Linked DNA regions of Homo sapiens: regions 2 and 3 are each linked to region 1. Evidence: fine-mapped expression QTL. A gene starts in region 1. Each other region holds a variant in brackets. All regions are shown on one strand. Distances are from middle to middle. Region 1 holds the start of COG2 (component of oligomeric golgi complex 2). Region 2 overlaps COG2 (component of oligomeric golgi complex 2). Region 3 overlaps COG2 (component of oligomeric golgi complex 2).

Region 1 (8,352 bases):
AGGAATGCAGGACCGTCTGACTGTATCCTCAGCCTTCAGGTCAAGCACATGATCTGTTTAAAAATGGAAACCCTCCTATCCTTCAGTAGTGAACAAGGGCGACTCTGGTTGCTTTTGGAAAATTCAGCTGCTTTAGTCCAACAGTTCAGGAGAGGATCAGCATAAGAACTTGGTGATGATTACTAGAGAAAATGCTCCTATGATTTCCTGAGCATAATATTTCCCCTTGCAATTTTTGAGTGTTCTATAGCAAACCTGCCAAAAATGTGGAGCCTATAAATAGGGGAGAGTGGGAAGAAAAAAATGGGACCTCTCACAATGCCACTGAAAACAGGGAACTAAAAATTTTCCAGAGATGCAAAGTCAAAGGGGGATTAATATTTACTTAGAAATGAAGTAGCAGGTGCATGCTTTATAAAGAAAAGCCAAGAAAGGATGAAATTAGGGGAGAGACTGAAAAAGATGGAAAAATGTGCCAACTAAAGTCTCATTTTGAAGAAAGTTACAGATCAACAAAGGGGGAAAAACTCAGGTAAAAAGACTCCATATTATGTCTTGCATTGATTAGGCAGGTGCTTTATATGCACTTTTAAATTTTCTCTTCCTGCAAATACTATGAAATAAGTATCACTACCAGAGATGACATTCAAATATTTAACAGCAGACAAATATTTAACAGCACAGACACTAGCCAATCAGAAGCTGGCTAGAGGAGCCCCGCTAAGCCAGGCAGTAACCCTCTAATGGCTGGATCATGAGGCCAAGGTAGGGGTCAGGGCAGCAGCAGATTCTGTACAGAGGCCATTCACCAACCTTTGAGATGTTGCAATATTTACCAAGTAGCACAGCTGAAATACTGTGTGCCAGTTGAACATCAGCTCTGAGTGGAAACCCAGGGCCATGTCCTCTGGGCAGGTGTAGGCTTTCTCTCTTGCGTTTGTCCTCTGTAGATTATGATGCTAGCATTGAAGTCTTTCTTGTTGCGCCTGGCTGTGGTGGTCTGCACCACTATCTGTGTCTCCAAGCCGCAGCCCACTCCATGGGGTCCTGATGGTTCCCTTCTGAATCTAGGGAGGACAGCAGGCAGCAGGGACCCTCCATCGCTGTTGCCACTTAATCCCTTTAGCATCCTCAAGATAAGCCCAGTCTGTACAAATTCAGGTTCATTTTATTTCTAAAGTCCCAGGAACAATGTCAGAAGGGAATTACAGTGAAGAAAGAAAGAGTTCAAGTTCCAGCTTACCTAGACTTCCTGCAGAGCCTCGAAAGAGAAGGCAGGGTTGCAGACATCTTTGTTTCATCTGTCCAGCATCCTCTCCCGTGCCTTGGTACTGGGCTTTGAAGCCAGGCTGCCTGGGTTTGCAACTTGCCACTTATTAACAGTGTGACCTTGGGATAAAGGCCCACCTTTCAGAGCCACTATAGATTGGTTATTGGAATTGCTGGTTTTGTTAGGTGTTACAAAATGTCAGGGTTTTTTTTTCTTCTTTTGATGCGTAAACTGAGGTATTAGGGGATAGGAAATGATATGGTGTTTAGAATTTGCTTTAAAACATATTCCAATAAAAGGGCTGGACTCAGTGGTTCATGCCTGTAAACCTAGCACTTTGGGAGGCTGAGGCGGGTGGATCATCTGAGGTCAGGGGTTCGAGACCAGCCTGACCAACAGGGAGAAACACCATCTCTACTAAAAGTACAAAATTAGCCAGGCATGGTGGCACATGCCTGTAATCCCAGCTACTCGGGAGGCTGAGGCAGGAGAATCGCTTGAACCTGGGAGGTGGAGGTTGCGGTAAGCAGAGATCATGCCATTGCACTCCAGCATGTGTAACAACAGTGAAACTCCGTCTCAAAAAAATATATATATATATGTATATATATATATATATAAAACAACAAAAAAAGAAGGTCTCGATGCGGTGGGTGGGGAAGGGCAGAGGAGACAGGTTGATGATGGTTGAAGCGAGGTGCTAAGTACATAGGGTGGGGTTCTTGTGCTCTCCACACTTCTGTGTACTTGAAAATTTTCATAACAAGAGAAAACAAAAAATTAAACAGAAAATGAGGTTTTCATTTCCTCCAGCAAAACAAACATAACAGGGACTTAGGATGTACTTTTCCCAATCGCTCCTCTGGCAGAATATTTTGATCCTCCAGCTAGCTTCCGGCTCTTATCCTGTTCATCTGTTCTGTAGATACTGGCAGGAAATAGGCTCTTCAACAGGGCCTGCTAGGTCCAGTGCTAGGGAGTAGAGCGTTTTGGATTCTACGCCTACATTTTTTTTTAAGTGACCAGTTTTCTAGTTGAGATACTTGAAATACAAAGTCTCATGGTGAGGTCTTACCCTCTGCTGTCCCATTCCTTTTTACAGGCCATCATGGCGTTAATCTTATCTCCAAGGAGAAAAATTGGGAAGAGAGGCCTAGATTCCTCAACAGAAGCGGGAAGGAAAGGTTTGCAGAATGAAGAGTGTGAAGTGAGGTTTGTGGTTTGAATCATCCGAATGTCAAGGAGAAAAGAAGAAAAATGAATCATCATCATTTGACCACGGTATTTACAGCTAGCGGAAGGGACAAGAGGAGAAAAAAGCAAGGGAGGAGATAAAGGAAGAACGTCTCAGAATAAAATTGGGGTGGGTGGGGGGAGGAGGAGGAAGACAGTCTAAGAAATTGGTTTGGTTGCACCAGTACTGGCCACAACACAAAAATTTGTCCATTCCTGGTTGAAATTAAAAATAAATGTGCATGCACATGTATTTGTCTGCTGTGTTTAATCAGATAGCGAGGCACTCCTTTAAGCACCTTGAAGACCCAAAGTTGCGCTCAGAGGCTGCCCACCTGGAACGGAGACCGAGGTTGAGCAGGGAGCTACTCAGAGGACCCAAAGCCGCCTAGCTGACCACCTTCTTCCCTATGAGTTCCCAGTAACGGAGCCCAGTGGAGGAGACGCTACACTTCTCTGTGGGGACAGAGGCTAAGGGCGGGGGTCTCCATAGAGGCGTTAGCGCCCACCAGCGGCAGTGACCGCGCACAGGGAGGTGAAGAATGCGACCACGGTGATACGTCCAACCTGGAAAACGGGCCTGAGAACCAAAGGGCCAACTTCTGGCCATGCATAACGAAGCAGAGCAGTCTCAGGGTAGAAGGCACTGGAAAAGCGTTGTAGGACAATTTTTCCCAGTAGAAACGGTGGGGGTGGGAGGGAGACCCGCTCACCCCTTTTGACCCACCCCTGCAGCTCAGCCACGCCTCCTAGGGAGGTGGGCAGCCTTGCAGGAGCCCGCGCGAGGCTGCAGTACCGCCCTCCGCCACATGAGGGCAGCACGGCCTACCCGTGCAGCAGCGGCGGCCCCCGCGCCCCTCTTGGCCAGAGCCAGGCGCAGGCCGGCTTGCGGTGCCGTCGTTCATTGGCCGCGGCGCGGGCGCTGCCATGTTGGCGGAAGCGGACCCCCCTGTGCCGTGGAAACTGGCGGTGGCCGCGGCCGCCGAGTCGGTCTGCGCAGCCTCCTGCGTTTTCTCGCTTGGATCTTGGCACTGAGAGGCGGTGGCCGGCGGGATGGAGAAAAGTAGGATGAACCTGCCCAAGGGGCCGGACACGCTCTGCTTCGACAAGGACGAGTTCATGAAGGTGCGCGCGGCGTCCGCTCCCCGGAGCCGGGCCATGAGGGTGCCTCTGCCCTGTGCCCTCTGTGGCGGTCTCTTCGGTCGGCTGCTCCTGCCTGCGCACGCTCAGTGTCAGGTCCTCCGCCGAGACCTCGCTGCACTTCGCAATGAGTCTTTTGGCGTCAGGTTTGGCGGGTGCAGCCTGGAGAAAGCACTTCTGTAAAATCGTGCGTGTTACATGGAAAGGCCTGAAAGTTCTGGGCAAGTGGTTTTGAGCTGCATGTCAAAGCCACTGTTACCCGTTCCTGTTACCATGCAGTGCAGTCAGATTGCCAGTCCCCTTGTCGGAAAGAAGCTTGTGGACCGGGGCCTTGGAGCTCATTAAGTGTGTGTTGAATAAATCTCCAAGCCCACGTACTTTCCTAGGGACTCGGGTCGGAAAGAAAAAGAACTTAATCTGAAGTTTTGCTTAACATTCAGCTAAAGCTTCCAGAATGGGATATTTAGAAGCTTAGAACATTCTTACCGACTATTGCAGTACGACAAAGCAAACCATTACTCTTTAAAGAAGTTGCTCTACTTTTTACGTGATGCATTTGAAGAAGTTGGTAGTTGTAGGTCATAAACTTAGAGAAAAGAAATATAAACTGAAAACACTTCACTGATGATAAAGTTCATCAGGCACAGCCTTGAAAATGGCCAGGCTTTGAGTGAGAGCTGGGAGGAGCTTTGCTCCTACTTGGTGTATCCCTCTGGGTCTGCACTTAAGCCATTCAAAAAATGTTTCTATTTAATTTCCTGAGGACTAGGATTTTTGACACCTTTTAGTAGCTGCTTTCAGTGTTAAAAAGCGAAAAGTTTTAGCTGGTTAGTAGACATCTACAATTTTGAGCAAGTGAGTTGAAATCTTACTCTGCCTTTCTTGGTGACATAATGTTTTCTAGATTAATTAGCCTATCTCTTTTTGATAATATTTGCATTCAGATTACATCTCCAAAGCTGTTTTTTTTTAAAGTAGATCTGTATCTTCTCCAGTGTGACCATATCATTTTTCGTATGTAGGACTTATCTATACCCAGGAATAATGTACCTTATTCTTGTAAGTGATATTCCTATTAGACCACTGTACTAAAAGGTGTAACTTCATTAGGATGTCTCAAAGAATGTACAGAATCAACTCATTGATCCAGAAACCCTTCGTTTTGCCTACTGGCTAAGAGCTACCCTGAAATGAGGGTAGAAAGAAACAGCTAAGGGTACATGCTGGGGAGAGGTGCCCTGGAAGAGGAAAGGCCATACACGGAGATCAGGGGCCTTGTTGACGTCAAGAATCTCAGAGTACAGAATAATCTCAGTTTGTCCATCTCTTGACTTCTTAAGGCTCAACACCAGCATCTTCTCTGACTCACTAGCCCCACCACCTTTCCCACTCTGAGTTGACAGAATGCCTTTGGTAAATGCAGCTTCAGGAAGTGAAATCACAGAAATACAAGTTCTAAAATAGAACTTAGAGTGCAAACTGGGGTGGTGGCTGGAATGCCAGCAATTGCATATTTCGTGGCTCTGTGAATATGCGGTACATTTTGTAGTGCTTATAAAAGTGACAACATACATAGAAGAAAATACATAGAACAGCTGTTCTGTGTAAAATTTTGTTGATTTTTTAGGTGGAGCTTGAAGATAAAGGTTATTTGCAATTTGTGTTGCCTTAAACATATAAAACTACATATAAGTTGCACTTCCATGGCAGAAAGGATGGTTGGAACACTTGTCCAGGCTATATTTCTATGTTTGTGTCTCATTCAGCACATTTTGTAATTGGATAGGTTTTGTACGTGTGAGAAAGTTGGGATATGACATTTGCATTGGGAGATTTGAGATTGCTTGAAAATCCAGATTTAAAGTTGCTTGAAATCCACTCTCTTCTGTTATTACCTCTCTTCTGGTATTACGTCTCTTCTGGTGTTGATGGGAAACTGTGTTTAGGTTGCCATAGATCATGAGGGCATGCTAGTGCAGTGGTAGCAATTGTTCAGTCAGTGGGCATTCCATGATCACCTGCTGTGTGCAGGTTTCAATGGGCCTTGTATACTGTACTGACGGATTTGCACTTGATTTAGTATTCATTGTGGAGTTACAGTCAGGTTAAAAGCAGGAAATGACATGATCATGTATGTTGCAGTTGGAACTGACTGGTGGCGGGAGGCTACTTAAAAAGTTATTTCAGTGGTTTTTATGAGATCTGAGAAATACAGGAGGGGATAGTTTGTGGAAAATATTACGTAAATGATCAAAAAGCAGGAGTGGCAGATGAACGAATCACTTGAGGGGTCAAAGGTGGTAATGGCATGATACTGTTGACTTCGTCAGCTTAATAAAATATACACACTGAGCAACATAGTGAGAATGCATTTCTACAAAATATTGAAAAATTAGCCAGGTGTGGTGGCACATACCTGTAGTCCCAGCTACTTGGGAGGCTGAGGTGGGAGGATTACCTGAGCCTGTGGAGGTCAAGGCTGCAGTGAGCCAGGATTGCAGCACTGCACTTCAGCCTGGGCAACAGAAAGAGACCCTGTCAAAAAAAAAAAAAAAAAAAAAAAGAAAATGTACAAACACTCTTAGAGAGGGTTGACAATCAGTAGATGAATTAGGATGTAAGATACTGGTAGTAGGAGAGAGGTGGTAGGCTAACAGGGATAACTTAAACCCACTTAACCTAGGTATGCTGTGGCAATCATATCCTTCTGTCTCACGTATGACTTCATGTGTTTTACAGAAAAAATAGAGGCCATCAAGCGGTAGCTCCTTCATCTTGCTGACAGCAACCTCGTTCTTGCATTTGTACCTGTTCTCACTCCCATCATTAACCTGTTGTGTAGGGCAATGGTCCCCAACCTTTTTGACACTTTTGGAAGACAATTTTTCCATGGACCAGGAGTGCAGGGGATGGTTTTGGGGTGATTCAAGCGCATTACATTTATTGTACACTTTATTTCTATAATTATTACATTGTAATACATAATGAAATAGTTATAAAATTCACCGTAATGTAGAATCAGTGGGAGCTCTGACCTTGTTTTCTTGCAACTAGACAGTCCTGTCTGGGGGGTGATGGGAGACACTGACAGATCATTCAGCATTAGGTTTTCATAAGGAGTGCCTAACCTAGATCCCTCGCATGTGCAGTTCACAGTAGGGTCCATGCTCCTATGAGAATCTAGTGCTGCCACTGATCTGACAGGAGGCGGAGCTCCAATACAGAGTGGCTGTGAATACAGGCTGCGCTCCTCCTGCTGGGCCACCCGGTTCCCCACAGGTAGTTGGGGACGCTGGTGTAGGGGTCTTTCCTTCCTCCTGAGGTCTGCCTCCCATGCCTGGATCCGGTGCCCTCTCCCTTCTCAGGACCCTGTTATTCCCACCCTCTCCACACTTCTTCCCATTGGCTTTCAGACACACTCCTATTTTAGTTTCTTCTACTGGACCCTCCAACCTCCAGTTAAAGCCCATCGCTCTCTTCCATCTCACAGCCAAATGCTCACAGCCAAATGTTGTCTTTACTTTCTCTCCCTTCACTCTTAAATTCACTTCACTCTGGTTTCTGGCCCCATCATTCCACTAAAGACTTCTCACCAAAGTTAACTAGATGGAAGTCGATCCACCAGACCTTCTCTGCTTCCTTCCCTGACCTCAGTAGATCAAATGCTCCCTTCATTTGCTTTCTGAAACCTGGTGCTTTCTGGTTATCTTTTGGCCTCTCTGGTCTCCTTGTCTCTTTTGCATAATCATTCTCCTCCTAGCCATTAATTGGTGGGTTATGGACTCAGCCACGTGTCTGTTCCTTTTCACATGCTGTGCACTTTCCGCAGGTGACCCACTTCATGCAGCTTCAATGACCACGTGTAGACAGGTGAAAGGTTCATACTTCTGGCCCAAATACCTTCTTATCTGCAACCCCATGTGCACAGCGCCTTGACATCTCTTCTTGGCTATCTCTGTGGCACCTCAAACTCGGCATATTTAAAACTGAATTTGTTGGGGGAAGATGAAAAAAACCAACCTTCTCTCAAACTTGGCTCTCTTCTGGTATTACCTATCTCAGGTAATACTAGACCTGAGGTAATCCATCCATCTGGTTGTGAGTCAGATGTTATCAAGGAGTCATCCTTGATAACACCTCTCTCCTTCACATTCTTGAAATCCAACCTGTTACTAAGCCTTAGGATTTCACTTCCCAAATATCTCTGAAATTTGTCTACTTCTCTCCATCTCCTCTTTTCCCACTTTCTGACTCATCATTATCTCTGGCCATTATAATCTAGTGGCTTCTTACTGTAGTCCCCTGGCATCCATTCTTGCCTTTTTCTAGTCCGTGTTCTACATCACAGGCAGGGTGCCCTTTTCAAAACGCATCTCGGTGCTTGTATGTAACAGGTGCTTGTATGTAATCAGACTGCCACCTGTATACACCATGAAAACATGAGAAAGCATTTTCCAGAACACTTGGAAGTATTCCAGAGCAGCTTATTGCACTGATGGACAGTTTCTATTGATTAGTAGCTATCTTGGTTATCTGATTGAAAAAACATAGCGTATATAGAGTTGGGTACTATCTGTGGTTTCAGGCATTGACTGGGGGTCTTGGAATATATCTCCCTCAGATAAGGGGACCCCTTACTGTAGTTCTGAGGCTCATCTGTATTCTAAGTGTGTAAATAGGGAATATTGAAACAGGAGGTGTGTCCAAGA
Region 2 (8,000 bases), 38 kb after region 1:
TTTAATAATTTCTCAGTTTGTGTTTGTCTGAAAATAACTGTATTGCTTCTGTTTGTAAGGTCAGTTTGCTGGATGTATTAACAGAATTCTCAGCACTTTGAGTGTTGTCTTTTGAGTTGCATTATTAAGTTAGCCGTTAATTTAATTGTTATTTCTTTGTAGTTAATGCCTTTTTTCTCTGGCTGCTTTTAAGATCTTCTGTGTGACTTTGGTGTGCTAAGTAAGTTCTGCTATGATATGTCCAGTAGAACTTCTTTTTTTATTATTATCCTTAGGATTTGATAGGTTTTCTGAATCTGAGAATTGGTATCTTTCATCCATTCTGGAACATTTTTATATATTATTTCTTCAATTGTGCTTTTCTTTCATTCCTCTATCATCTCCATCTAGATCTCTTGTTTAGACAGGCTCACCCTATCCTCTGTATTTGCTGCATTCTCGATAATTTCACAGTCTGTCTTCTAGGTCACTAATTCCTTCTTTAGTTGTGTCTAAACTCTTTTCCACCTGCACATTGAGTTTCTGGTTAATTATCATATTTTTTTATTTCTAGAAGTCATATTTGTTGTTTGTCTAGCCTCCCTGGCGAATTTGTTTATTAATTTTTTAAGTGTAGAGAGGCACAAGATAAGCATAAACAGACAGCCTGGGGCCCAGCAGGTTTCCCACAGATAAGACAACACATTGGGAGGTTTACCATTCCAGAAATGCAACTTACCTTATCTGTTGGCTGATTGTCCCATGTTACAGTGCATTGAATAACAGGATTGTGCCATTTTCAATAAATTTTATAGCAACATTTGTAATTTTAAAAAGTAGGGCTTTTTAAATAAGATAGCATAAGGAGAGTGAAATAATGGCTTTAAGCAGAAGCAATTGTAAGCTTTAAGCACTAGCAAATGTGAAGACGCTTTACAATTTGCTGTGTGCTTTAGAGACTCGTATTGACCATGTTTGACTCAGGAAATGTTTCAGCTCAGAAATGAACCTTTCTGATAGAACTTGACTTTAGAATTTTAGGCTAATACTTAACATTTGTGAGTATAGTTTCCAGCAGATAGTATCCATTTATTTCCAGAAATACTTTCAGCTTTAAGCCTTAATGTAATGTGTTTCTTGTAAGAGGGCAATATCTTTATATTTGTTTTAGCATCCATTATATGCAGAGGTATAGTTTTGTCCCAAAAGGGAAGAATAATCCCTATTTTTGTCTCAACTCCACACACCTAGACCACCCTCTGGGATAACATAAGTTTGCCCAAAACCATTTGAAATAAATTTAAAGCCTGTAGTTTTTACTACTGTAAGATCCTTTCTAAGCACAGACTTTAGCATATTTAGATTAATGGTTTGATGACCCTGGATTGAGCCCCTTTTAATTGAGAAGAACATAAAAAATTCAACAGTGTTCTTAGAGCCTGGGGGCTTCGGGAATAAAGTACCCACAAAAGCAACATGCAGCCGCAGTTTTGGTCAACTGACTGACTAGCATTCTGCTTCCTCTACCGCCTGGCTTGTCTTTTGAGCAGGTTCTCTGTGAGCCTCAACAGAAGAAGAAGCATCATTTGTAAAATGGGGATGATGATGATGATGATGATGGTAGTTGCCCTGTGGGGTCGTTTTGTGGGTTAAATTAAATAAGACAATTCTAATCACAGTGTGTCGATGATAAATGCTACGAGTTAGCTGCCACTCTTAATGGTTTTGGTACATCTCCCTGTCAGTTTTCATGCTATCTTATTTATAAAAATGAAGTGAATACTCACATGGTTTGATTCTTTCTCTTCTCTCTCTTTCTTCTTCAGAATTTTCTCCTTCTTTCTCCTTTGTGAGGCAATGACGAACTATGTCATTTAATCTGCTGTCAATTCTAATTCCAGTGGGCTGGGGTAGGGGGCCCTAGAACATGAGCACTGCCATTTAAAGAGCACCAGACTTAGAGTGCCTGGGTCTCAGATGGGCTTTGCCATGGAAGACACGGAAGACATATCACAGAACCACTTTGGGCATTTATGTATCTTTAAATGGGGACATTGGAAGAAAGATCTTGTAAGTTCCTTGTTAACTCTAGAAACTGTGATTCTTACGTGTTGAGCTTCTTTATCTTGATTACAGTTTTCAGTACATGCTCCCTGTTCTAGTTAGTGTTCTAATAATGAAAATTTTCCTTTTGTTTTATTTTAGAAATATACCATAAGTATGGATTTTGTCAGAAGATTGGAACGGCAGTGTGGATCACAGGCTAGTGTAAAGAGATTAAGAGCCCATCCTGCCTATCACAGCTTCAATAAGAAGTGGAACTTGCCTGTTTATTTTCAAATAAGGTTGGTCATCTATTCACCGCCCCCGCCCCGCACCCTTCTAAAACAGAATTGGAATGCCAGTTAAGGATGTTGCCTCAGTTAGCGGCTCCTTTTCTCTGATCATCATAATAAGCTTTGGGAGACAAAATTGAAAGTGGAGAAAGAGATATAAGAAGTATTATGGTTGCCAAAGTCTGGCTTGCATGACAAAAAGATAAGTTTTCTTTTTTGGTAATTGGAGAGCTCAGAACACAAGAGTTGGAAGGAGCTGACTCCAAGCCCAGCCTCATTCCCACCCACCATGTCCTCATTCATTGTGAAAAGAGAAAGTAGGAGTTATACAGCAGCTCTTTTTTTCCATTTTCCCTATTTCATCGTCTGCCTCAAATAATGAACCTGTCTCACATCTGTTTTTGCTCGTCTGAGATACTTTTCCCCTAGAGGGAATGGGGAGAAGCAGAGCTTTAAGTGTTCTTTGCAGCTGGTTCCATCTATTAGTTTATGAGAAGCCTGGTCATTATTTCAGCCTCCCTGATCGTCTTTGTGACATTTGTACCCTCTATTCAGGAAAATGGTGACATTTTTCTTCCAGGTTTCATGATGATATCACCTTTGTCAATAAGCCATTCTATAAAATACTTGGGGGAAATTTAGGATGAACCCTTATCATACACTGCATTGGAAAAACATGATAAGAGTCATT[T/G]TTGCAGATTCTCTTGAATGAGGTCATGGTATGTTCTTCCGTAGAATGGATTTTACTTGAAATGCTCTTTGAAGAATCATAGGCTTTTTTATTTAAATTGCTGGATGCTTTCATTAATTATGATGCAGTCCTTTCCCCTAGCGTTCTGAGGAATAATTACAGAGAGGGAAATCAAGAATTAGGTACCCTGATGATAATTGCTTGAGATGATTGAGAATGTATGTAATGATCTTTTTATAATGAAATCACAGTTCTCAGAATGAAGTAGTAAGGTGCCCTTTCACTTACAATACTGTGTTTTATGCTAAATTTTCCAAGGTTGCATCATCATGTAGTTGGTCTCTCAGCAGGAAATTACGGATTTGTTCATCTAAGATATTAATGGGATGCACTGGAAATAGTTGGTATATGATAATCAACATCAAGCCAGGGCAAGAAACCTTTTTGATTTGTGAGCAGGATTTAAAATAGCAAAGCATCATTTTATAAAATGATACTGCTATGTAGAAATAATGTTTACATTTCCCCATCTCTTTTTGTCGTCCAGGTTTGGAGTTAGATTGCTTTAGTTATCTAATGCTGTCACCTCACAAACATACTCCTCTGCTTCCTGCCTCCAAACTTTCCTGGTCCTTTTCCTCAGACCCTGGGACCCATGCAGCATCACCTCACTCTTCCATCCCACCCCTGCACCTCCTGGAGCTCCCATGGGCTATTTCAGCCCATGCTCTTGGCTCTGCCAGGCTGGGCCCCTTGGTGACGGCCCAGCTTGGCTTCAGCTGCATCTCCCTTCCATTTCAGTTTCTCTCAAAGCTGGTAATTGGACCTTAAACTACATTGAAACTCAGCCAGTTCCCTGAAAGTCTTTTTTACCTTCACCAGATTTCAGCCTTAAGCCTTCAAAGGAGCTGATTAGCCTTTTTTAAAAAACCTCTTTTATTTAAAATTCATGAAATTTTAAAAAAACACGTTTGAGTTACGGAAGTGTAGAACTTGTCTTTAGTACATTTGTTTTTCCATCTAAAAAGTAAATTCCATTAAGACTTTGTAGAACTTTTCTATTGATTTTTATCAGGTGTTGAGTTGTTTGCTCTGAAGGATGACAAAAAGTTCCGCAAACATGATTAGGGTCAGAGTTGCATTGTCATCAGATTCATTTCAAGGTCATTTGAAGTAAACCTAAAGACAGTGGGGTGTGATGGTTGGACATTTCCTAAGAAGAAATATTACTCTCAGTAATAGTTTTCTGCTCCTGGATCTGACTATATACCCACATCCCAATCACCTTCAGGAAAAAGGCCACCTCCCCACCCCAGCCACCACCACAATTCTTGTGAACACATTTTGTATCCTCTCACTCTTCCTGAGACCCCACTGTGTCTACATTTCATTTGCACCTACAGGCATATTGGAAAGTAGATGAGGACTTAGTATCTCATAGGAAGAAATTAAATGCAGATGTGATCAAAACAGCCCCAAATTATAATGAGTCAGTGGCTGCCTGGAAACTGCAGGTGTTAGCTCTTTAAATGCTAAAGCCTAAATTTCAGTTTGCTGTTCTTTTTAAAATTGAAATCTTTATAGTACATTCACATGTATATACTGTATTACATAGTATATGCTGAACACAGTCTTATGATGTGGAATCTACATAGTAGTATTAAGGTGCAAGTAGCCCTTTCCTGTTCCTGCACTCCTCTCAGACATGTGTATCCACAAGAGACGGGTGCACTTAATGATGTTTCCAATACTTCAGAGAAAAAAAACAATAGGCATCACTATTATTATCGCCATTGTTATTTTTATTTAAGTATTATTGTAGACCTGTGATGTTCGTGGAGGAATATGTCTAGAGACCTTCCCCAGGCCTATATTTAAGAATTTAGAAATGTTTGTATTTGGGGTTGCCCTTCTTACATGGATCCTGTTGAGAGTAGAATGACATTCGATGTGCACATGAAAACCACAGCATGGCTTTTCAGATTTCAGCAGAGGTTCCCTCTCACTTTTGGCCATTTTCCAAGAAGAAATATGATCTGTTGCTTCATTCCTGGAAGTGACTGCACAGCAGAGCTGTGTGAGGGGCTGGTCCCCTGGCTGGGGAGCACACCTAGGCCAAGTGACTCAGGCAGTTGTAATCATGTATCACTGTCCCTGCTCACAGACAGGCAGAACGTCTCTGTGAAGTGCAGGGATCAAGGCTCTGCTGCATTTCTTTGGTCCTTTTTCATTTCTATGCTTTTCAGAATTATCATAAATATACATAAAACTTTGTGTCCCATGTCTTTGGATAGTACTAAATTATACCTATTTTTCCTTATTGGAAAATAGCATCAAGCTTCCACATTAATACTGCATACTAGTCCATTGAATATATCTCAGGTTCCATAAGCATATTCCTTCTTTTGGCCATTTAGGTTGCTTCCAGTTTTTCCCTGATATAAACAGTGCTGTGCCAGCTATCAGGCCTTTTCTGTATCAGGGCTAACTTCCTATATTTTGTTTAGATTTTGAAAAAAGGCAGGACTTGGGGGTCTGAGATTGAGCTCTAGGTGCTGGTTTGCTCTCCCAGGTGCAGAGCAATCCCATCTCCCTTGTTCCCGTGCTCAGTGTCACTGCCTCCTCTTACTGCTGTTCCTGGGCTAGTTTCCAGTGCTCTCTTATCCCACTTTTCCATCTGTCACTTGTTCCTTCTGTACCTCTCAACTGCAGCTTGAAAAGACTAGCCTTTTGTAAGCTTCACTGGGCAATTAGAGTTCCTTTCCTTCCATGGGGCAGACGGGACAGCTACTGGAAACCAGCCAGCTACAATGGTACAGGATAGCCTTAGTGTCTTCAGTGCTCAGCTGTGTTGGGTAGGGCTGCTGCTTTTTGTCTCAAGCTGTTCTTTTTACTCTTCAGACAGTTGCCTTTAGCTCAGTCTGTGAACCGCTTTGTAAAAGCACATTATGTACTATAAAAAATAATTTAATATCAGTTGGATAAATTGATATTGAGCATGCATCAGAATTCATTACTAGTAAGGCAATTAGCAGGTGACAAAAGAGCATGCTAGTAAAGAGATATATGAAATTGCAAGAGTTATATAGTTAGAAAACAATGCCTGCAAAAGCAGCTAGCTTAAAAAAACTATATAACACATTTGCCTTTCACAAAGTCATAAAAACATGTCCATATCCATTATTAGAACAGAAGTCTGTGACAGGATGAGCTGAGGTGCCAGGTGAGCCAGCTGTCATCAGGGAAAAAAGAACGCACATCTAGGAAGCGCTGGTACAGACAGCCGTAGAACCCGAAGGGCAAGTACCATGGACGTGGGAGAGGGTCACAGATTAGAAGAGCACCAAGCAGTGAGTTCTAGTTTTAACTGGCCACTTCCTGTGATTTTTCTCAAGCTGCCAACACAGGTACAGAATGCAGCTTTCTTAGCTTGGGGACGTTTACCTTCCTGTGATGGTGTTAAGATAGATGGGTTGGAGGAACCAAAGTTTTATGGCCTTGAAGTGAATAGAGGATCATAATCAGGTGCTGCTCACCAGCAACAACTTCTTGATGGAGACTTAACTGGCAGTTTGTTTAATTTGAGAAACATGGGGTAAGTTATGATTCAGACCAGCTGCAAATAACAGAGAACCCTTATATAACAGTGGCTTAGTCACGATTTCTTGTTCAGTTAAAAAAAAAAAAAAAAAAAAGCCTGGGAGAATAGGCATTCCGAGGCTGGACTTACCAGTGAGTGACAGAGGAAGTTCCTGTTACTTAGGAAAAACAGAGAATGGATAGGGAAAGGCATCTGTCAGAGTCATAAACATTAATTCTTCTTCTTGTTTTTATCTCAGATTTAGAGAAATAGCGGGATCCTTAGAAGCAGCACTTACAGATGTCCTGGAAGATGCCCCAGGTAACTCCCTTAAAGTGATAAGTGGCATGGTATCCTAAATGAGTTCATTCAGTTCACCAAGTCATCTGGATTGCAGTATTCTGAGCGTACTTTTACTGTTTTTTTTTTTTAATCATACAGTAAGTTGGACCTTAAAAATCACTTAGTTTGACTTCTTTTTTTTGCTTTTTTTTTGAGATGGAGTCTCGCTGTGTTGCCCAGGCTGGAGTGCAATGGCATGATCTTGGCTCACTGCAGCCCCCGCCTCCCAGGTTCAAGCTATTCTCCTGGCTTAGCCTCGAAAGTAGCTGGGATTACAGGTGTACACCACCACGCCTAGTTAATTTTTTTATTTTTAGCAGAGACAGGGTTTCACCATGTTGGCCAGGCTGGTCTCGAACTCTGACCTCAAGTGATTCACCCCCCCTTGGCCTTCCAGAGTGCTGGGATTACAGGCATGAGCCACCACACCCAGCCTGACTTCTTTTTTTAATAAGGTAAAAATAAACCAAATAGTTTTGGTGTATAGAGTTCTTGCTTTATAGAGATGAAAAATGAATAAGAATATAGGAAACAGACCTCATTTTCATTCCTGAATATAACTTGTCCAGGGGATATGGCCCCTTGGTGTGCTTATGTGAACAGCTGGTTTTTTTTAGCAAATTGGCTGTGATCTGCCTTCCTCCCAGGCTGAGGACTGGTCTGCATGGTAGAGGGTCAGGTGCTCCTGCGTCTCACTGAGAATGACTCACAGCTGGAGCATGCATCCTGGGCCTCCTGTGCCCTGGCCGCCCATCCTAGGATGTTGGGCAGGTAACAGTTGTAGGTATGTGGACTTACCAGTACATGTTGACATACCCTTTCAGCCTCATTAATTTTTGTATCATATATTTATTCCTAGTGACCACTGAAATACTGTGTGCTGATATCTAGGTTCCTCAACTTAAATTTCCACTCTCTTTTATACAGCTAAGTCTACTGTCATTTTGAATCAATTTTAGCCTCAGAGTTAGTTTTCATCTGTCTTTGCCAAAAATGGTCATATGTAGTTAACTTCTTCTATAAAAATAAGAAGTATGTTGAGATAGAGGAAGACTCTTGTGAAATAGGACAA
Region 3 (8,000 bases), 26 kb after region 1:
ATTACCTTCCCACACTGAATTTAAAATCAGTCAGGTAGTTGAGTGACTCAGAAAATGAATTGAATGGATCATTATGAACATTAATGGGAAACTCCATGGTGCAGTGGAAAGAGCATGGGCTTATGTTGCATGTACCAGCTGGGTAGCCTGAGTCAGGTTACTTCACTCTGTGTCTTGGTGTTGTCATCTCTCATATAAGGCTAATAGGAACTCCACTTGCAGGATTGGTAGCCATAGACTAGACCCTCATACATGTCTAGTTTGAGCCTAACACAAGCATCTCTGAAAGTCACATTGATAGCCATCATACTTTTCCTTGACTAATATGGGATAAGCTACAGGAAAACCAACCAGGACCAAATGGAATATACCTGCAGTTCAAAGTCCTGATCGTATTATCAAGACAAGTTGGATTTCTTAATTTTAGGAATCAGAATTTTAGATTTGGAGAGACTGTAGAGACAGTATGCTGTGTTTCTCTCATTTTATAGATGAGGAGATGAGGCATCCGAAAAGGAAATTATTCTCATGTCCTAGGTCTCTACTTTCTTTCCTGATCGAGATGTATAAATAAGTGGTCAATCGCTGCCATCTTTTTTCTTCAGCCTGTAGTACTTCTGCTTCTGTCCGTTCTGTTCCCCTTCATCTGCGCTCATCAGAGTCCCCATCAGTGTCAGTTCTGAGAGCCCAGCAGAGCCCTGTTCCACTAACTGCTCTGCTTCTGTCTTCCACTCAACAGCATTGACAGCCCCTCCCAACTATGTCCTCACTTGGCATCTGTGATACCTGCCTCCTCATTTTCTTTTCCTCCTTCCCCATTCCTACTCTGTTCCTTTGATGGACTCCACTGCCCTTTTTCATGCCAGCTTTCTCCAGGGCACTGTTCTTGGGACTGTGCTCTTGATCAGCACTTTCTGGGTAACCTCATCCAACCCCATGGTTTTAATGGCCTCCTGGATGCTGATCTCTTTATCTGCAGACGAACTTCTGTAGTCCTCAGACTCATCAGTCTGCTGACTGCGGGGAGTTTAGTGGACGTTCTCCAGGCACTTCACATTCATCATGTTGAAAACTGAGCTCTCATCTTCTTTCCCTGCCTCTCTCCACCAGCAAAAACATTTTACTCCTCCCTTTTATTCCTTGTCTTAGGAAACGGTGCCTTTATTTCCTTCACTAACGAGGCTAGACATCTTGGGGGAGTCATTTTCTCCTTTTTTAAACTTCATCTCCTTCTGGCGTTCACTAGGCAAGCCCTGGAGACTCTGCTGCTCTAGTGTCTCTGAGATTGAGAGATGTCTGCCTCCCCCTCTCAGTTCTCCCATTGCCTCGTTTCAGGCAGTGGCCTCCTGACTGACCTCTCATTTTCTCTAGGACAACTAACCCTAGCTGCCAAATGGATCTTTTAGATTTGTCTAATCACATCTTACTATGTGATTGGGAAACAATGGTTTCCTAGTGTTTTTAAGGTAAATCTTAAACTCCCAAGCTGCTCCTTGCCACTTCTGTATTCTTCACTAAAGCTATTCAGAACTACTTTTGGTTCCCTGACTGCCCTGAACATTGCTGACTTACGCTTCCTTAATTTTACTATGTATGGCCATTTGTTGTACTAAAAGCCCTTCCTTTAACTTCCACCTCCCTTTCACCTGCCCGATTTCTCTTTATTCCATCCAAATCTAGCTCAAAACATGCTTAAAGTATAGAAAGTTTAAAAATACTGTGCTAAGTGGAAAAAAAGCAGGTTATAAAACGATATGGATTTGTTTTGTAAAATTTATTCTTCTCTTTTGTGTGGGATACTGTTGATCCCTTCTGCTTTCTTTAAAACTGTCTCACTCAGTTCTGTGAGAGAAAGTACAAACAAGACACTACAAGAGTTCCCTTCCATAAAGCTCAATTACAAGACCACCTCTTTTAGCAAGTCTTCCCTGACCTTTCAGATTTAGATGCTCCATCTCCATGCATTCATCGGGCCTCCGGGTCATCCCCTAGACAACTTAACGGTGAGACTGGAACTGTTGATTGGCTTGCATGCCTTCTCAGTCTATAAGGCCCCTGACATCTTTACACCACAGTGTCTGGAACTAGTAGGTACCTAAGAAAAGATAACCAAACGTCTCCCACTAGTGGGGAACGGGCTTCTGATGACCTCAGTGATGTCTGTTTCTAGACATACTCTTATATTATTGTATTATATTATATTCAGTATGTTATATTCAGTATAATAGACACTGCAGTCTTCCTTGCTCCGAATCATCTTTGAGGAGCTTTTCTGATGACCTCAGTGATGTCTGTTTCTAGAGATACTCTTATATTATTGTATTATATTATATTCAGTATGTTATATTCAGTATAATAGACACTGCACTCTTCCTTGCTCCGAATCGTCTTTGAGGAGCTTTTCTTAAATTCAGATCTGCAAATTTGAGCTGTAGTGAAGGTAAAACCAGGGCAATATTACTGAATAGTAGATATACCATGCTTGTTAAGCCAAGAAACATTTAGATAATTTATAAATAATTAATTCACACGAGATTATTCAGGAAACAGTTAGGGATATTCAAGACAGAGTTTCCCTTTTTGGTTGGTCACACTGGGCAGTTCCTGTTCCTCTAAACTAGTTTGGATGCTACAAATACAGAACTGGGTGGACCACTGATGGTCTCAGTGCAGCATTTTATATGTCCTCATGATAGGGACATTTTTCCTCCCTAACTGGTGATGAGCCATCAGTGTACACAGGATGCCTCAGTATACACAGCAAGTGATTATGCCTTTATACTTCTCCTCTGCTATTTTACTTCCTTTTGAGTGATATTGACATTTTATAATATGTTTGGGGGGAAAAAGTGCATTTATTATATTTTGTGCCAGGTACGTAAAGAATGCCCTCTCACTAGGACCCACAGCATGTAGGTTGACTGCTCTTGCTGTTTGGTAAATGTAATTTTAAAGTAAGTTATTACTATTTAAATTTAAAATAAGATATTTTGAGATATTTATTGCTGCTGGAGAGTCAGTTTCATTCATTGAGGAGACAAATATATTTGGTATTTTAGAAATATCTAGAGGTATTTTAGCAAGGAGAGTGAGGCAGGCAGAGAAGTAGAAAGGATCCAGCTATAAGAAATGAGATGGAAAGAAAAAGAAAAGATAAGGAGGGAGAAGGGGAAAGGGGAGAGGGGGAAGAGGGAAA[T/A]AGAAGGGAGGTTAAAGCTGAAAAAGAAGGTCATGAATGGGAGAGCTTGGAGTCGGTGGCAGAAACACATAATTGCATGTCCACAGGCCTAGCCAGCCCTGCTGCTGTCTGGTCCCTGTGGGTCAAGGCCAGGCAGCATCAGCAGCTTGTACTCAACAGATTCCCCGGTGCACTTAGAACATGCTGTGCATATGGCGTCTGGGGAACATTGACTGATGGCACAAAAGACGCTTTAGCTTTCACCTTGTAACAAGGTGGCCACATAAAACACTCTGACAAAAGTCAAAATACAGTGGGTATGAAAGTCTCTCACTGCCAGGCGTGTGATGTATTCTCGTGGAAATAGAGACCTTAGGGGTTACACTTCTATAACTGTTTTCTCTACTAGCCCCCTTTTGACTGGACAAATTTTGGAGAGAATTGCCACAGAATTTAATCAGTTACAGTTTCATGCTGTTCAAAGCAAAGGCATGCCTCTTTTGGACAAAGTAAGACCGGTAAGTGTTGTTTTGGATTTCCACAGTTTGGTGTTTAGGGACTTGCTAAATAATTCTGGTTTAAACTAGTAATATTGTTGATCTACAGGGTTTTGAAGCTAACCTTGCATTTTTTTTCAATTTTTAATTTTTTGGGCGCCAGCTTCCTAAGTGTCACACATTATAGATTTTGTGTAAAGACTCAGTCACATTCTCCAGATGATAAGAGTAAAATTAATTCTGAATTTCATGGAATTGGACATCTTATATGATGTAGACAATTAATTTATCCAAAGCCCTTAATTGGATTTTAAATCCATGATGTTTCCTCAAGATTGACTTCGTAGCTTAAGAGGAAGGTAACTTTTTTCTCATTCTGTAATTCTGTCTAAATTCTTCTTTGATGAAGCAGAGATTTACTTATAAAGTGATTGGAGTGAGGGGTTCATTGTTATTCTCCAGGAAAAGTTATTATTTTGATTTTATATATGTCATTATCTGTTGGTGTAAGAGGCTTGTTATATATCTACTTGCAGTTTCAGAAACTGTTACAACTAGAGCTTTTTTTTTATTTACCCACCTTTTCTTGCAGCGTATAGCTGGCATTACAGCCATGTTACAGCAGTCACTGGAAGGTCTCCTATTAGAAGGCCTTCAGACGTCTGACGTCGATATAATACGGCACTGCTTGCGGACTTACGCCACGATTGACAAGACACGGGACGCGGAGGCCTTAGTTGGCCAAGTACTAGTGAAACCATACATAGACGAGGTCTGTGTACCTCCTTCAACAAACATTCATGAGCTTCTGTTCTGTCTTTGACTCTTTACTGGGTGTGAGGAAGATAAGAAGAGAGAACAGAGATCTTTCTGGAAAGATTCTCAGTTCCTACAGTACCAGCTATAAGGAAGGATTGGTCTCCATGGGTTATAGTTGGGAAGTAATGTTACGATGCCAGGAATTGGGCGTGCCGTCTCAGGTGTCCTAGGAATGCTGCGGCTCAGGCTTCAAGGGCGAGATTCAAGGGCATCCACGTGCTTTTAGGTCAATTTTATGGGAGGCGATGGTTCCTCAGTAATTGTTAAAAGAATGTTTTCAAATCACTGGTCTTGTGGGTGGACTAAGGCAATTAAGCAGTGACAACACTGCAGTGTACGAGGAAGGTGCAGGGAGTGCTGTGAGTGTGGAAAGGTGTGTGAGTGGGGTAGACAGTGGTACCCTCAAGTCTTCAGGGAATAAATGACATTTGGCCCAAGTCTTGAAAAATACAGAGGAGTTTGCTGGACGAGGAAGGTGAGAGGAGGAATATTCAAAGATCAAGGGCTTTTATAGCAAATTAGCCAAGTAATACCTTAAATCTAGAACTTGGCTATGCAGTATCCTTCACCTAGTAGGATATAGTTAAAATGTAGGAAACAAGTATATCCCACTTCTGAGCAGCCAGAGTATAGATTGTGCCATATAAAGTTGCTGATATTCAACAGTTTCTGACATACAAAAACAGCAGCTTTGTCTGCTTCAAACTGAGAGAAGTCACTGAGCCCGTCCTCGGTGTTTGGGGACTTTCCTCCAGTGTCCTGTCAGTATGAATGTTCTGACTGTTAGTAAATACAAAGATTATACTCACATGATTTCAGGGTGAAAGTCTTTTATTTTTTAAAGTGGAAAGTTGAGACTCCCAATGATAAAAATGAAATGTAGGGACTCATTTTAATAATTATTTTGGCCTTGTTAAGATTACTAAAAATAAATGATATTTCAGTTCTCTCTGTTTATATCATGTTATATTCCATAGCTGTCTCTATGGGGGTGAAAAAATTACATACATTATTTCTTTGTCAATAAGTGAAAAAATTTTTTTGTGCTTTGGGGGACAGGGTCTCACTCTGTCACGCAGGCTGGGGTGCAGAGGCATGATCATGGCTCACTGTAGCCTCAACCTCCTGGGCTCAAGCAGTCCTCCTACCTCAGCCTCCCAATTAGCTGGAACTACAGGTACACACCACCATGCCTGGCTAATGTTTTTTTTGTAGAGATGAGGTTTTGCCATGTTGTCCAAACTAATCTTGAACTCCTGAGCGCAAGTGATCTGCCTGCCTTGGTCTCCCAAAGTGCTGGGATTACAGGCGTGATCCACTGCGCCCAACCGATGAAAATATTTTAGTCACTAATCTATTCCTTTTTCACGGAACTGAATCTAGTGTGCTAAATTAAAGAACTATTTGAACTTTCAGTGGCATATTAAATTCAGTAGCCACATTGTGTTTTATTTAAACTCAGCTTATCTTGTCATATCATTCTTGTCTCCCAATTTTATCACAAAAAATAAAATAATGAACTAATATATTTTCTTCTGTCTTTCTCTGCCTCAAACCCTTCCCTAATCTGAATGATGGTAGAAAAAAAGGCCAGGATGAAGACAGTGAGGAGTTGTGGTGGCGAATCATGTGCTCTGCTTTAAATCTTTTTTTAAAAGTTGTTATTTTATTTTCAGACTCCCAGGGAAGCAGATGAGAGTGCATGGTTTGTCAGCCCATGTCTCCCCCACAGTTGTATCTGTACAGCCTAATCCAAGGAAGTAGTTTTGAATGTGACCTGTTATTTACTTCACTGTTTAGAAAATGTGTCACAGGGAGGAGGGTGAGTGTGAGGAAGCAGATTTGTAAAGTTTTCTTTATTGTTTTCTCTGAAATAGATCGTTTGTACTTCCCTTTTAAATGCTTTTTTAAAAAATGATTTTTCTTTTAATAGGTGATTATAGAGCAGTTTGTTGAATCTCATCCCAATGGCCTTCAGGTCATGTATAATAAACTCCTGGAGTTTGTTCCTCACCATTGCCGCCTTCTTCGAGAAGTCACAGGAGGTGCCATCTCCAGGTAATTTAAACAACCCTGTGTGGACCCCCACCTCCCTTTCAGTGACCGCACCTGCTAATTGCAGGTGCACGATGGACGATGACTGTCTTGTATGAACTGTCTTGTATGAATCCATTATGAATCTTGTTATTTCATTGTTTCTACTGGTGATACTGTGAGGCAGATTCCATTAGCCTCATTTCAAAGTTGTGGAAACTGAGATGAAGCTGAGACTGAAGACCACATTTCCGAATCCAAAGCCTAGCCTTTCTTCTTCTCTGCACTTTTTCCTAAATTTAGTTTGAAGTCAGAATTGCTTTCCTTCCATGATTCTAATATGTCATAATCTGTCTATAAATATTAATTCAGTTTATTTCAACAGGTTTTATACTAATTGTGAACTCATCTTCAATTTTTCCTCCTTTTGTTCAGTTTCCATGACTTCCTGATTCTCTTTCATAAATATCCCATTACTTTTCACCATTGCCATTGTCCCAGTCCAGGCCTTGTCATCTGCTGTCCACAATAATAGAATCTTCCCACCCTGTCTCCCTGCTTCCAGTCTCTCCCTCTCTAGTCTAGGCTTCTGACTGTCACATTTACCCAGAAATCTGAGATTCATAGATTTCTTCATGAATCTTTAGTGGCTTCTCAGTGCGCATGGAGGAAGATCCAGGCTTCTCGAAGCAGGGCATGAGGCCCTTTTTGTTCTTGCCTGGTAGCTCTCCACTGTAGAAACTTTCCCTCCATAGCCCTGGATGCTCCAGCCACACAGTGCTAGCTGCCTTTCCCCAGCTCCCTTGTACTCACGTGCTTCTGCGTTTTTCCTCTGCCTGCCCTCCCCTTCCTGTGCCCTTTGTTTTCCTGTCAAACTGCCTCTCCACATGAAGCTCCAGCTCAGATACCACCTCCTTCAAGAGACCATCCTTGACCGGGCGTAGTGGCTCACACCTGTGATCCCAGCACTTTGGGAGGCCAAGGCAGGTGAATCGCTTGAGGCCAGGAGTTCAAGACCAGCCTGGGCAACATGACAAAACCCCATCTTAAAAAAAAAAAAAGGCCATTTTTTCTCCTAATGTTCAGCATTCATCATGTCCTCTGGATTGCAGGATGTGTTGCTCTTGGGTCTGCTGAGTACTGATTTCCATGTTGCATTATGATCACCTCTCCGCTGCTCACACCTTCCCCTGCCTCTTGACACAGTGTCTTAGAGCTAGCAGCTGCCCAGTTAGTGCTTGCAAAATGAAAGAATTAACTATGTTTAATGATCGAAAGGCAAATAAGGTCTCTGTTTTCATGGAGCAAGCAATGTATTTGGCCTTGAGTTTTTGTTCTTTGCAGAAATATGGGGTAATTAATATGCTGCTTGGCCTTTGCAGTACCCTCTCTGTTTCCTCTGTACCACCTAAGATGAAGTCTAGTTTTGCTACTTTTGTTTAGTAATCATAAGGATTTAGTTGGATTTGGGGATA

Evidence for each region. PIP is the estimated chance that this variant, and not a neighbour inherited with it, causes the effect.
Region 2: its variant is fine-mapped to the expression of COG2 in sun-exposed skin (GTEx, PIP above 0.99).
Region 3: its variant is fine-mapped to the expression of COG2 in whole blood (TOPMed, PIP above 0.99). The same link has a PIP of 0.9 or more in thyroid.

Annotation. Positions count from the first base shown.
Region 1 is chr1:230,639,051-230,647,402 of GRCh38, forward strand. COG2 (component of oligomeric golgi complex 2) reads left to right here and starts at 3,431. Exons shown (of 18, transcript NM_007357.3): 1 at 3,431-3,628. The coding sequence starts at 3,557. LOC124904545 (a long non-coding RNA gene) reads right to left here and starts at 1,647. Exons shown (of 2, transcript XR_007066935.1): 1 at 1,244-1,647; 2 at 1-1,067. RefSeq lists silencers at 3,225-3,364, 4,978-5,097 and an enhancer at 3,455-3,674.
Region 2 is chr1:230,676,729-230,684,728 of GRCh38, forward strand. COG2 (component of oligomeric golgi complex 2) reads left to right here. Exons shown (of 18, transcript NM_007357.3): 10 at 2,185-2,324; 11 at 6,846-6,907. Among named protein-coding and RNA genes, the nearest start is that of AGT, 33 kb to the right of the region's middle. The variant T/G (reference allele first, on the strand shown) is at 3,007.
Region 3 is chr1:230,665,092-230,673,091 of GRCh38, forward strand. It overlaps COG2 (component of oligomeric golgi complex 2), which reads left to right. Exons shown (of 18, transcript NM_007357.3): 6 at 3,585-3,693; 7 at 4,265-4,444; 8 at 6,425-6,549. Among named protein-coding and RNA genes, the nearest start is that of COG2, 27 kb to the left of the region's middle. The variant T/A (reference allele first, on the strand shown) is at 3,197.